3 linked regions of the Homo sapiens genome follow. The protein of the gene in region 3 interacts with the protein of the main gene of each other region in a pairwise test. Each region holds a gene or a part of one and is shown on either strand. Other genes may lie near its edges.

Evidence for each region. Proteins that work in one complex are often made in the same cells at the same time.
Region 1: the proteins of PLG (region 3) and CYFIP2 interact in a two-hybrid assay, tested with the Homo sapiens proteins (one large-scale study listed by BioGRID and IntAct).
Region 2: the proteins of PLG (region 3) and RAP2A interact in a two-hybrid assay, tested with the Homo sapiens proteins (one study listed by BioGRID and IntAct).

Annotation. Positions count from the first base shown.
Region 1 is NC_000005.10:157,318,123-157,321,622, forward strand, and holds part of CYFIP2 (cytoplasmic FMR1-interacting protein 2), read left to right. Parts: intron 1-1,639; coding exon 1,640-1,806; intron 1,807-2,532; coding exon 2,533-2,680; intron 2,681-3,500. UniProt on the Homo sapiens protein: Involved in T-cell adhesion and p53/TP53-dependent induction of apoptosis. Does not bind RNA. As component of the WAVE1 complex, required for BDNF-NTRK2 endocytic trafficking and signaling from early endosomes.
Region 2 is NC_000013.11:97,440,669-97,444,168, reverse strand, and holds part of RAP2A (ras-related protein Rap-2a), read right to left. Parts: intron 1-3,500. UniProt on the Homo sapiens protein: Small GTP-binding protein which cycles between a GDP-bound inactive and a GTP-bound active form. In its active form interacts with and regulates several effectors including MAP4K4, MINK1 and TNIK.
Region 3 is NC_000006.12:160,708,744-160,712,243, reverse strand, and holds part of PLG (plasminogen isoform 1 precursor), read right to left. Parts: intron 1,168-3,500; coding exon 1,053-1,167; coding exon of another isoform or gene 1,049-1,052; exon of another isoform or gene 372-1,048; intron 1-371. UniProt on the Homo sapiens protein: Plasmin dissolves the fibrin of blood clots and acts as a proteolytic factor in a variety of other processes including embryonic development, tissue remodeling, tumor invasion, and inflammation. In ovulation, weakens the walls of the Graafian follicle.

The sequences.
Region 1 (3,500 bases), on a different chromosome or scaffold from region 3:
TCTTCAGTCAAATATATGTCGCAAATATTTTTTCTCATCAGTGACTTTGCCTTTTCATTTTTTAAGGGTGCCTTTTGAAGAGCAGCTGTTTTTAATTTTGATGAAGTCCAATTTGTCAGTTATTTGGTGGTTAGTGATTTGGGGGTTTCAGCTAAGAAATCTTTGCCTTGTCTAGAGTTGTAAAGATTTTTCCTTTAGATCCAACAGGCCTGCCCACTCCTCTGTATTTGGAGCCATTCTGAGACATCTTCATTATTTACTCCTTCCTTTTTCCTAATGTCTCCTAGTTATATCTGTAGCCAGGGGCCCAGATTCTGTTATGATCTAACAGTCCTCTAATGCTTCTCTCCCATTATTTCTCTGCACTAAAGCTCATCACCAACAAAATTGTTGTACTGTTGGTGCCAATGAAAACCATCACCTCCTGAGTTGTTTTCATACCAGTTCTATCTAAAAATGTTCTTTTTCTTCCTTTAAGTTTTAGAGAAAAAAACAGCCTTAGGGTCTGAGCTCATTCATTCATTTATTTGTTCCTTTTCAACAGAAAATGTGTCTGCCCACCATGGACCCAGACACTGGCAGTTGGGCGTGCACAGCATAGCTGGGCCCTGTCCTGTGTATTTCCAGTCTGGTGTAGAAGGTGGAACATGCCATTATGGGTGTGATCTGTGTGGCAGTTGTGAGGTGGACGATCTGCCACATGCCTTTCCCTCTGAATTCTGAATCAATTGAGAAATTAATATTAGAGGCCAATGGAGTCAAAGGCTCAGACTTACTGCTGGTAAAGCTAGACTAGAGAATGTGGTTTTCACCCAAGGCCACACCAGTGTTCCTATGCCTCCTACATCTCATTAAACTTGCCACTAGGTAATAGGCAAAGCAGCTGCATAGATACACGCCTCCCTTCCTCGGGATGGGCAGGGGATGGTTACTGCAAGAAGCAGCCAGAAACCTAGAAGGGAGGCCACATACTTGCAGGCAGGCAGGTCCCAAAAGAGCGAGCCAAGGTCAGGCCAGGCTCCTCTCATCACACGTGCCTGAATCCCCATCTCTCCAAACAGATAAGTGAGTTAGGGTAAGGAGAAGGGAAATAGGGGAGTAGAGGCATTCTCCCCCATGACTTCTGCAGGAGAAGTTTTGATTTTATAAACTCAAGCAGCAACTGGCCAAACGGTTTCAAAAACAAAGGTTGTAAAAATTCTTTAGAAAATTTTATGTTAAAAAAGTTCTATTTGATGTTGTCTGTGAGTGCCTGGTCTATGGAGAGGCCTTCAAAAGCCAAGGCACTTCTCAAAATGCTCAAATTGTGGCCCATGGGCCAGCTGCTATTTGTCAGCAGTGAACAACAAAATTGGGAGCTCATGCGAGGATGAAAATCAGTTGCATTGCGAAGAATGCTGTTAGTTGAGCTGACATTTGTGTTTTGTAGCAAGACTTTCTCAATGAATGAAGCCAAGTGCTGATATACGTACATTCTGGCACACATCTCTTACCTAGCCATGCGCTGGCACTTTGAGTAGCACTGGCCTCATGCCTCTGGACATCTCACTCCCCGCCTCCCCTGGCAGGGCGGTGATGGGTAGTAGACAGCTGGTGTGCTGGACATGGTGAACATGACCCTTGGCCTCTTCCTGCCCAGGTGATCGCCATGATCAAAGGCCTGCAGGTGCTCATGGGCAGGATGGAGAGCGTCTTCAACCAGGCCATCAGGAACACCATCTACGCGGCATTGCAGGACTTCGCCCAGGTGACGCTGCGTGAGCCCCTGCGGCAGGCGGTACGGAAGAAGAAGAATGTCCTCATCAGGTGGGTTTTCAGATGCCTTCAGGAGCATATCAGACATAAGCATGCCAGGTACCCATCAGAGAGGATGTCCTGGCTCAGCCACTGAACACACATGGGTCCTTCCAGCAAGCTCCAGAGGGCTCTTTAGGAGATTGGGCATTTGGGATGAATTAAGCCTTCATCTCTAGAAGTCCATATCCACTGCTATCTAGCTGTGTGAACTTGGTCAGGTTGCTGACCTTCTCCAAACCTCAGTTTTCCTCATTTGTAAAATGGGGATTATAATGCTACCTGCTGCCTGTTGGGATGATGAAATGAGATGGTCCATATATAGACCTAAGCACATGCAGCATGGAGTAAGTATGCAGCACATCTAAGCTATTATGAAAACTAAGCACACACAGATTTCATAAGACCGGTGAGACTCCCCTATAACCAGAAAGGAAATACAGACCTCTTGCCTCACACAAGTTCTGTCTCACTCGATGGGCTCAGAGCTGAGTTCTCAGACATCCCTTGGACATCAGAACCATGTAGGACACTTGTTTAAACACAGATTCCTGGACTGTACCTTAAATCTGTTAAACCAGAGTTTTGGAATTGGGGCAGAAATGAGCATGCTTTACAAGCACCCCAAGAATTCAAATGTGGGTGTTCCTGGGACACCACGGGCCCTAGAAACACAAGCTTGTAGTGACGTTTTCCCATGGTGAAACCTGGTCTAAGTCTTAGTTCTTCCTTCCCCAGCGTCCTACAGGCAATTCGAAAGACCATCTGTGACTGGGAGGGAGGGCGAGAGCCCCCTAATGACCCATGCTTGAGAGGGGAGAAGGACCCCAAAGGTGGATTTGATATCAAGGTGCCCCGGCGTGCTGTGGGGCCATCCAGCACACAGGTAAGCGGCTCCAGGCACAGGCCAGCTGCGTTGACTCAGAGGCCAGCCGGGCTATGGTAGATCATCATGGCTGGCCATGGGCAGTGGGACTGGGAGCCGTCGGTCAGGAGGGGCAGGGTTGAGTGGCTGCTCCGGTCTTATTCTGCCATCTTGTTTTGATATAGGAAGGAGGACCACTGGCTTAAGATTCAGGAGACCTGGATTCTAGTCCTAGATACCTGTGTGACCTCGGGCACTTTACAGATCTCTCTGTGCCTCAGTTGTTTAAACTGGCTAATGGGGATAATACCACCACATCCACCTTGCCTGGCTATCTTCTAGTCCTATGAAGTATAGATTCCAAAGTGGAGGAGGAGGTTAAAGTGGAATCTATCTGCATGCATCTATGCTGCCCCTCTTTAATAAGTCCTGGCCCTTTCCCCTAAAAGTTCTGCCTCTGACTTGCTGTGTGATCTTGGGCAAGCACCTTGAGCTTTCTGAGCTCTGATTATCTTCTCTGTAAAATGAAAACTTTGGATGAGATTGTGTTACTAACAAAATATTCCTTAGTTCCACATCCTTCCAAAAGTGCAAGTATTGAAAGCCCTTGTCCCCTTAGAGGAAGTCTAGTATTTGGAAACACTCAGAGTTGCCAGCCAGAGCTTCTGCACAAGAGGTCGCCCGTGGCTTATCCAGAGCAGTCATAACGTTACAGAAAAAAAAGTCAATAATCTGGGCATCTTCGTTAAATCCCTGCTACCTACTTAAGGATAGGTAGTTTCTGGTAATATTTTTGATGTACTGGAAAAAGCAGATGGTTCTCATTGCAAGTTTAAGGGTC
Region 2 (3,500 bases), on a different chromosome or scaffold from region 3:
ACGTAGTGTTAGAGCACTTAAAACACAGAGGAGAAAGCAATGGGAAAAACAGAAATGTTATACTATACTAGGTATATAATTCATCTCAATATAGTAAGACAATTGAGCCTAATTCCTAAGAAGTCACGTGGCAGTATACAGATAAAAGGCTGGGTTTCATTCCTATTTCTGTGATTCTTGGTGAAACTTTATTATTAATATTTTAGGTTCACTATGTAAAGAAACACTTTACGTTCGTTATCTCACGAGTTACTACATCATACTCATATTACAAATGAGGAAATTAAAATGCAAGGAATGTCAACTTGCTCCTAATTACATAACTAATAAGTGCTGGATCTCAGCTTTAATGAGATTAACATTCGCTGTCTTCATGGATGAGAAGATAAGTATATACAATAAAATACTCCATTCGAGAATTATAATACATACAGTATTCATAATGTTCATTGGAAACCTAAAGATGAATTAATTTAGGACCAGGGGCAGTGGCTCAGGCCTGTAATCCCAGTGCTTTGGGCAGTTGAGGTAGTCGGAACACTTGAGGCCAGGAGTTTGAGACCAGCCTGGGCAAAATAACAAGATCCCATCTCTAGAAAAAATTTTTAAAGAATTACTTGGATGCGGTGGTGCCTGCTCTGTAGTCCTAGCTATTCAGATGGCTGAGGCAGAAGGGTTGCTTGAGCCCAGGAGTTAGAGGCTGCAGTAAGCTCTGATGGCGCCGCTGCACTCCAGCCTGGGCAACAGAACAAGACCCTGTCTCTTAAAATACTCTAAGATTTCATTTACAGAGAGAGAGCTGTAAAGATACTTAGTAGAGAAAATACTAATATGCATTGAATTATTAATATAGTATTTCCACATTTGAATTATTAATTTCTAAGGGTCAGGAAAGCATGAGAACACTCCTAAATGTTTTAAATAAAGGTTTTTCAATGTTTCTCTTGGGTAACTTTACTAAGTGATTTTAAGATATTTATAGTTTTACTGTCTTACAGGGAGAGGTGAATCAGTGTTATCCTGGATAGATGCAGCAGACCTCTATTTTGAGTTTTCTGAACCTCCTCAGCAACTGTTCTTGAAATAGATAATCCCGCACTCATGTATTCAAGTCTGAATACTACCACAACCTCCCTTTCTCTGTTCTAAGTTTTCACAAGGCAAAAGTTATCTTGAATTACTAGAATGAACAACATTACATGAGAAATACATTCTCATATTTCTAATATGCACAACAGAGATAAATGCTTTCTCAAAAGATATGCTATATCTTTTTGTTCAGTGACTAAATGCTATCTTTCTCTGAATTACAGGTAGTATTTACTAACTCACATTGGGAAGTACTTCATTTTCGTAATCTTACACAGCATTGCTGGGAACCAGAAAAGCAGGAGAGAGAAGATGAAATATTAAACAGATAGTTACATTTAGTTTTCTTAGAGTAAAAATGTCCTAGGATAGCAGTTTCCAAGCTATGTGTGATAAAATCAATTTGGTGGGTCATGAAAAGCACTTAAAAACAACGAAATAAAATAGAAAAAAATAAATAGAAAAAGTAATACAAGCAACATAGCAAGTTTACTGTCTTATGAAATGTTGATTTCGGCTAGATGTATTTATTCCTATGTGTGCACTAAGTCACAATATAAAATGTACTTCTTACTGAGGGCCCTGGTTAAGAAAATGTGAAATCCCCTGCTGAGTGGATCTATAAAAATAGAGATAGTTATTAATTTTTTCCAATATTTGGCTTTTTGACAGATAACAATTTAAAAATAAAAATTATAAGTCACCTTATTTCTCCCTAAATATAAATTTTGGTATGTTTTAAAATCTTAAATGTATTAGAGAAATAAAAAACAAAAACAAATCCCCATCTATACAATTATGCCAGAGAAAGAATTTAATACATACCATGACAAAATCTTAGCTAGATTATGTATTAGAATCTTCAAATATTGTTTTTAGTTATTTTGATTACTTTAAATTTTACTAATATATTTATGCTTTATTTAACATACTTGACTGAAATGCAGATGTCCACAATTACAGCATTACTATTATTGATATTACTCTACTAAAAGGCTGAGTTTGATCTGGTAAAGCAGAAAGGATGTTTAAGAAATTAAACTTCTCTCTGTCAGGCTGAGAATAATTTTTAATGATATGAACCACAAGTGTCAAAGTAACAAATGAAATGGCAATATATAATATATGGCATATTTCTGCACACCATTAAAATTTCAAGATAAATTTCCTACATAAACACAATATCTATACATTTCCTTTAGTAACTATTCAGTCACCATCAGTTTTACCTTGTTTGAAAGTCTGCTCGTATTCAAACTCTTATTACTCCAAAAAAACTTAGAGTACTTAAAACTCTTTTTACAACATAGGCCTGAAAAATATAAGTGTGTAAAAAAACAGTAGGTAAGAATAGATGGAGAGAAACAGAAAACAGGGAAAAATCAAAACAGAAGCAAAGAAAACCCCAGAGTAAGGCATACATGCTCCCCTAGGCAGTAAGGTTCTAAAGACAATGACTAAAAGAGAACTGAAAAGAAAAAAATACCCCTGAAAAAAAATTCCCTTAAGTACAGTGTACTTGGTTTTATGTAAAGATCCTTGCTTAAAAATATGTACATATACATGCATAATATATGCACCTTATTGTGCCATATGTAATTTCCCAGAACTTCACACACAGAAATTAAATCACTCAAGTATATTGCTACTGAAACTTTAGCAAATAGATTCCAACTTTGTTGGCTCTTCCTGTTGGCTGTGAAATCCAGTGATTTTTCTTAGTTCCTCTACCTCTTCCTTAATGTTTAATAATTTAAATTATTTTTGCCCTCCATTAAAAAATAAGTATTAGTATAATTATTCCTTATTGTAGATTTTATTGATACAATTATCAAATCTTAACTAGACAAAATTGTGGGTCACAGGCTGCTGATTCTTTAAGGTTCATATTAAACTTGACCCCTTCCCTCATCACCCCGGCCAGACAAAAGTGCTCTCACAGAATGTTAGAGAGGAAGAGACATCATCTCCTCCAACTCCAAATTGAGCTTTAAAAATTACAATCCTGGAGTGGCAAAAAGAAAACTATATACTGTAACCTGTAATTTTACAATGCAGCCAAAACAAAAGTTTCCTTTTCAGGAAAAACTTCTGGGCCACATAAAGTGATTCACTGTATGAAGTTCAGTTATGCAAGATAAGTAAGTCCCAGACATCTGTATGGTAATAGTACTTCTAGTTAACAATACTGTATTGTATAAACATTTGCTAAGAAGACAGAACTTATGTTGTGTTCTTACTACAAAAAAAATGAATGAATGAATGAATGAATGGATAGATAAATAAAGCAGGGGGAAACTTTTGGAGGTGATGGATAGTTTTACAGCATTGATTGTGGTGATTTCACAAGTGTATGCTTATCTCTAAACTCACTGAGTTGTACACATTAAATATGTCTGGCTTTTTGTACA
Region 3 (3,500 bases):
TGTGAACCTATTTGGGATAACCCCCACCCCCCGAGACCTCAGTTCCCTCATAAAGATGAGCCTAGACTACCTCATAAAAATGGCCCAGAGTGTCTCCATGGCCCCCGATAGTCTCTGACTTTGCCATTTGGTTGAATCAGTTTTCATTAACTCACGGGGAATATTTGATCTGCTCATCTCATAGGGATATAGCAAAGGCAATTTGTTGAGTGTTGGGGGAATGGATAAAGGTGAGTAACAAGCACTAAGTTCCTATTTGATAAGCGTCATTACTGAGAACTTAATGCCACCTAACACCAAACTGGGAAAAGTACAAAAAAATGCACTAAAATAAATAATAGGCAAGTTGCAACATTTGAATTTCACGTATCTTCATTTTCATTTTTATATCTTATTTACTCTTTTGCTCCACAATTTGAGTCGAACATGTGATGAGAGTTCTAACCTGATATGCTTACTTCAGTCCCAAACATAGTCATCTTTGATCTTTTCTCAGATTTGGCCTAAAACTCATAGTTTCATTGATTTTTTTTAAACTAGGCATTCTTCTATGTTCTAGGTCTTCAAGAAACCTCCATATCCAAGAAAAAATAGAAAGCAACCATGTTCTACTATGGTGCCAAAAATAGTTGAACATCGACATCAAAAAGATTCTTTCTATCTGCTTATTCACATATTGTGGTTTGAATTAAAAGTGATGAAATTATCCTAAATACAGTTGGCCCTCTGTATCCATGGGTTCCAGATCCACAAATTCAACCAACTGTGGATGGAAAAGACTTGAAAAAGATGACAGAAAATAACAATATGACAATAAAACATAATACAAATAAAAACAATACAGTATAACAACGATTAAATAGCATTTACATTATATTAGGGATTATACAAGAGAAGGTATGTAGGTTATATGCAAATACTGCACCATTTTATATAAGGGACTTGAGAAGCATGGATTTTGGTAGCCACAGGGGTCCTGGAACCAATCCCTCACAGACACAGAGGGACAACTTTACAGTAGATGAACACAAAGATGAAAGGGAATGTCTTACCTAGGTCTGTGGGGAGAAGTGGAACTCCATTTTTGACAGGTGATGCCATTTTTTGTTTTGGACATCGTCCCTCTGTAGTTCTTTCCATTCCCAGTCTTGCACTCTGAGAGATACACTGAAGGGAAGTCCACACAGTGGTCAAAGTCTTTCACAAGACACCACATGAAGGTCTGCACAGCATAGTCACGTTGAGAAAAAGATCTCATGCACCAGACCCCCTGTTTCTGCTTTCTAAAAGATCATCTTTTGCATCTGCAAAAAGGCTGCAGTAAACTGAGCCATTCTTTGATTCATGTATTCAAATGCTACTTATGAGCTCTCTGTGTATCGAGCCCCACCAGGATGCTGGGGACACACGGGGCACAGTGCAGCCAGAGGCTTGGCCGTCATGGAGCTTACATTCTAGTGGAATCAGGCAGGGGGGTTACAGGAAATATTCAAGGAAACAATATAAAATGAGATCACTTAATGATGATACATATTACATACATGATGAGACAGAGTGAGAGAATGGGGAAAGGGCTTTTTAGATGGGGGAATGGCAGGCTTTTCAGAGGCTGAAAGAGATCCAACCCACTTCTATTTCTTCAGGCTCCCAGTGATATGAAAAAGTGCCAAACAGGGCTATAAAATTGTGGTCTACTGTAAATGGTTTGCAGTAAAAGTTCTCAACCAGCTTCCACTCAACCAACTCACCAGTTAGACAACGGGCCCTCTCCTGTGTTTAAAACAGTCCGGTGCCCACCTGGGTCCACATGCAGCTGGCAGGTGTTTGCTAGTGTGCCCACCCATGTCTGTTCCCCCCACGTGAGTTATGTGCTTACAACGAGTCATTTCTTTGCATTTTCCAACTTTCTTACATTTATATTTAATTAAAGATGATCTAAACTGAGAAATGAATGTGAAAAGAAACAAAGCTCTTTTTTGTTTGGTTTTTAACTAAATTAAATGTTTTTAACAAGTTGAAACATGAATCATTTAAAAAATTGCTATCAAATCCACAGAGGGCAATCCACTCATATAGTTGACTATAAAGCTTGAGGAGGAATTCATAAAAATCTAAAGGTTTTACACATTCAGATTGATTAATAAATGTCGAGATATGGTCCACTTCAAAAATAAGGAAAGTAATTATTGTAGATGTTGCACTGGAGCATAGTTTATGCAGGAAATACACCAGAGACCTTCTACTGGTGACCCCATATTCGAAGAAGAAAAGCCTCTGCTCTACGTCAAAAGGTGTCAAGTACACTTGTGTTTTCAATGAAAATATAAAATGTTTAAGGTATATTTACACCATCATTTAAGGTTACCCACTTTAGCCATTTTTTAATTAATTGATCAATCACATGGGGAAAGTGCTCCTAACATACCTACAGCAAACTAATGCTTTTAACCCAATACTGCGTATTATGATTGCAAGTACATCTTCATTGGGACATAGTATTACAGTAGACATAAGACACTCATCAAAAGTGTAAACTCAAGGTACTTTGTGAAAGGGAGGTCTAGGGGTCAAGGAAGATTTGCAAAGGACATGATGATTGAGCTGACACCTAGGAGATAAGAAGGAGCTGGCACAGCAGGACAAAGGTGAAGAGGGTCCCAGGCAGGAGGGTGTGTGCTTGGGGTGGTGAAGGAACAGAAGTAAGGCCAGTGTAGAAAAGTTTAGCAAGCCAAGCAAACAGCAGCTGGGGGTTACTTAAATAATGCTGGGCCCTAGCACATTTGGGAAGTCTTTGGGTCTTATTTTAAGGGCACTAGGAAGGGCTTTAAACAGGGAAGTTACATTTCTTAGAGATCATGTGTACAGCTACAAGTAGCCCCAACCAGTGGTGATAGGGTCTTGGACTTGGTGAAGGCAGTGTGGCTGGTGGCAAGTGGCAGAAGTAAATGTGATCTAACACTGACTGTTCCTGGCAAAACCCTGGCAGGTAAGTTAGTAGCAGGTCAATATCCCACAGCAAAGAAACAAGGACCAAAAAATGACTGACTTTTGACTTTTCACTTCTTTTTTTTTTGTATGTACCCATCAGAGTTTATATAACCTTTTGCTCCCTTCTGTCACTTTGAAAACAAGCAAACTAAGCCTTCAAACTTCAGACTTCAAACTCAACCTACAGTCATTCCCATGTTCCTTCTGGTTAACAATTTACAAATGACATATTTAAATGTTAGCATTTTGTAGAGAGAATCAGGAGAATCAGGGTTTTTTTTTTTTAAAATCTGGTACAATTAGGTGATCCTATTTAGTTTACCGTTTGCTTGCTACTTGTAAGAACTAATAACTTCACCAGATAAAGTTTAGATTTAATCTGCACTTTAATCTCAAGAATTCGAGATAAATAGTGGTAAGGAAGGAAGTACAATGCGTACAGCTAATGAAACCCAGGAAGATGAGTCAATGCATAGAAATAATTCCAACCCAAATAAATACTATTTAAAATG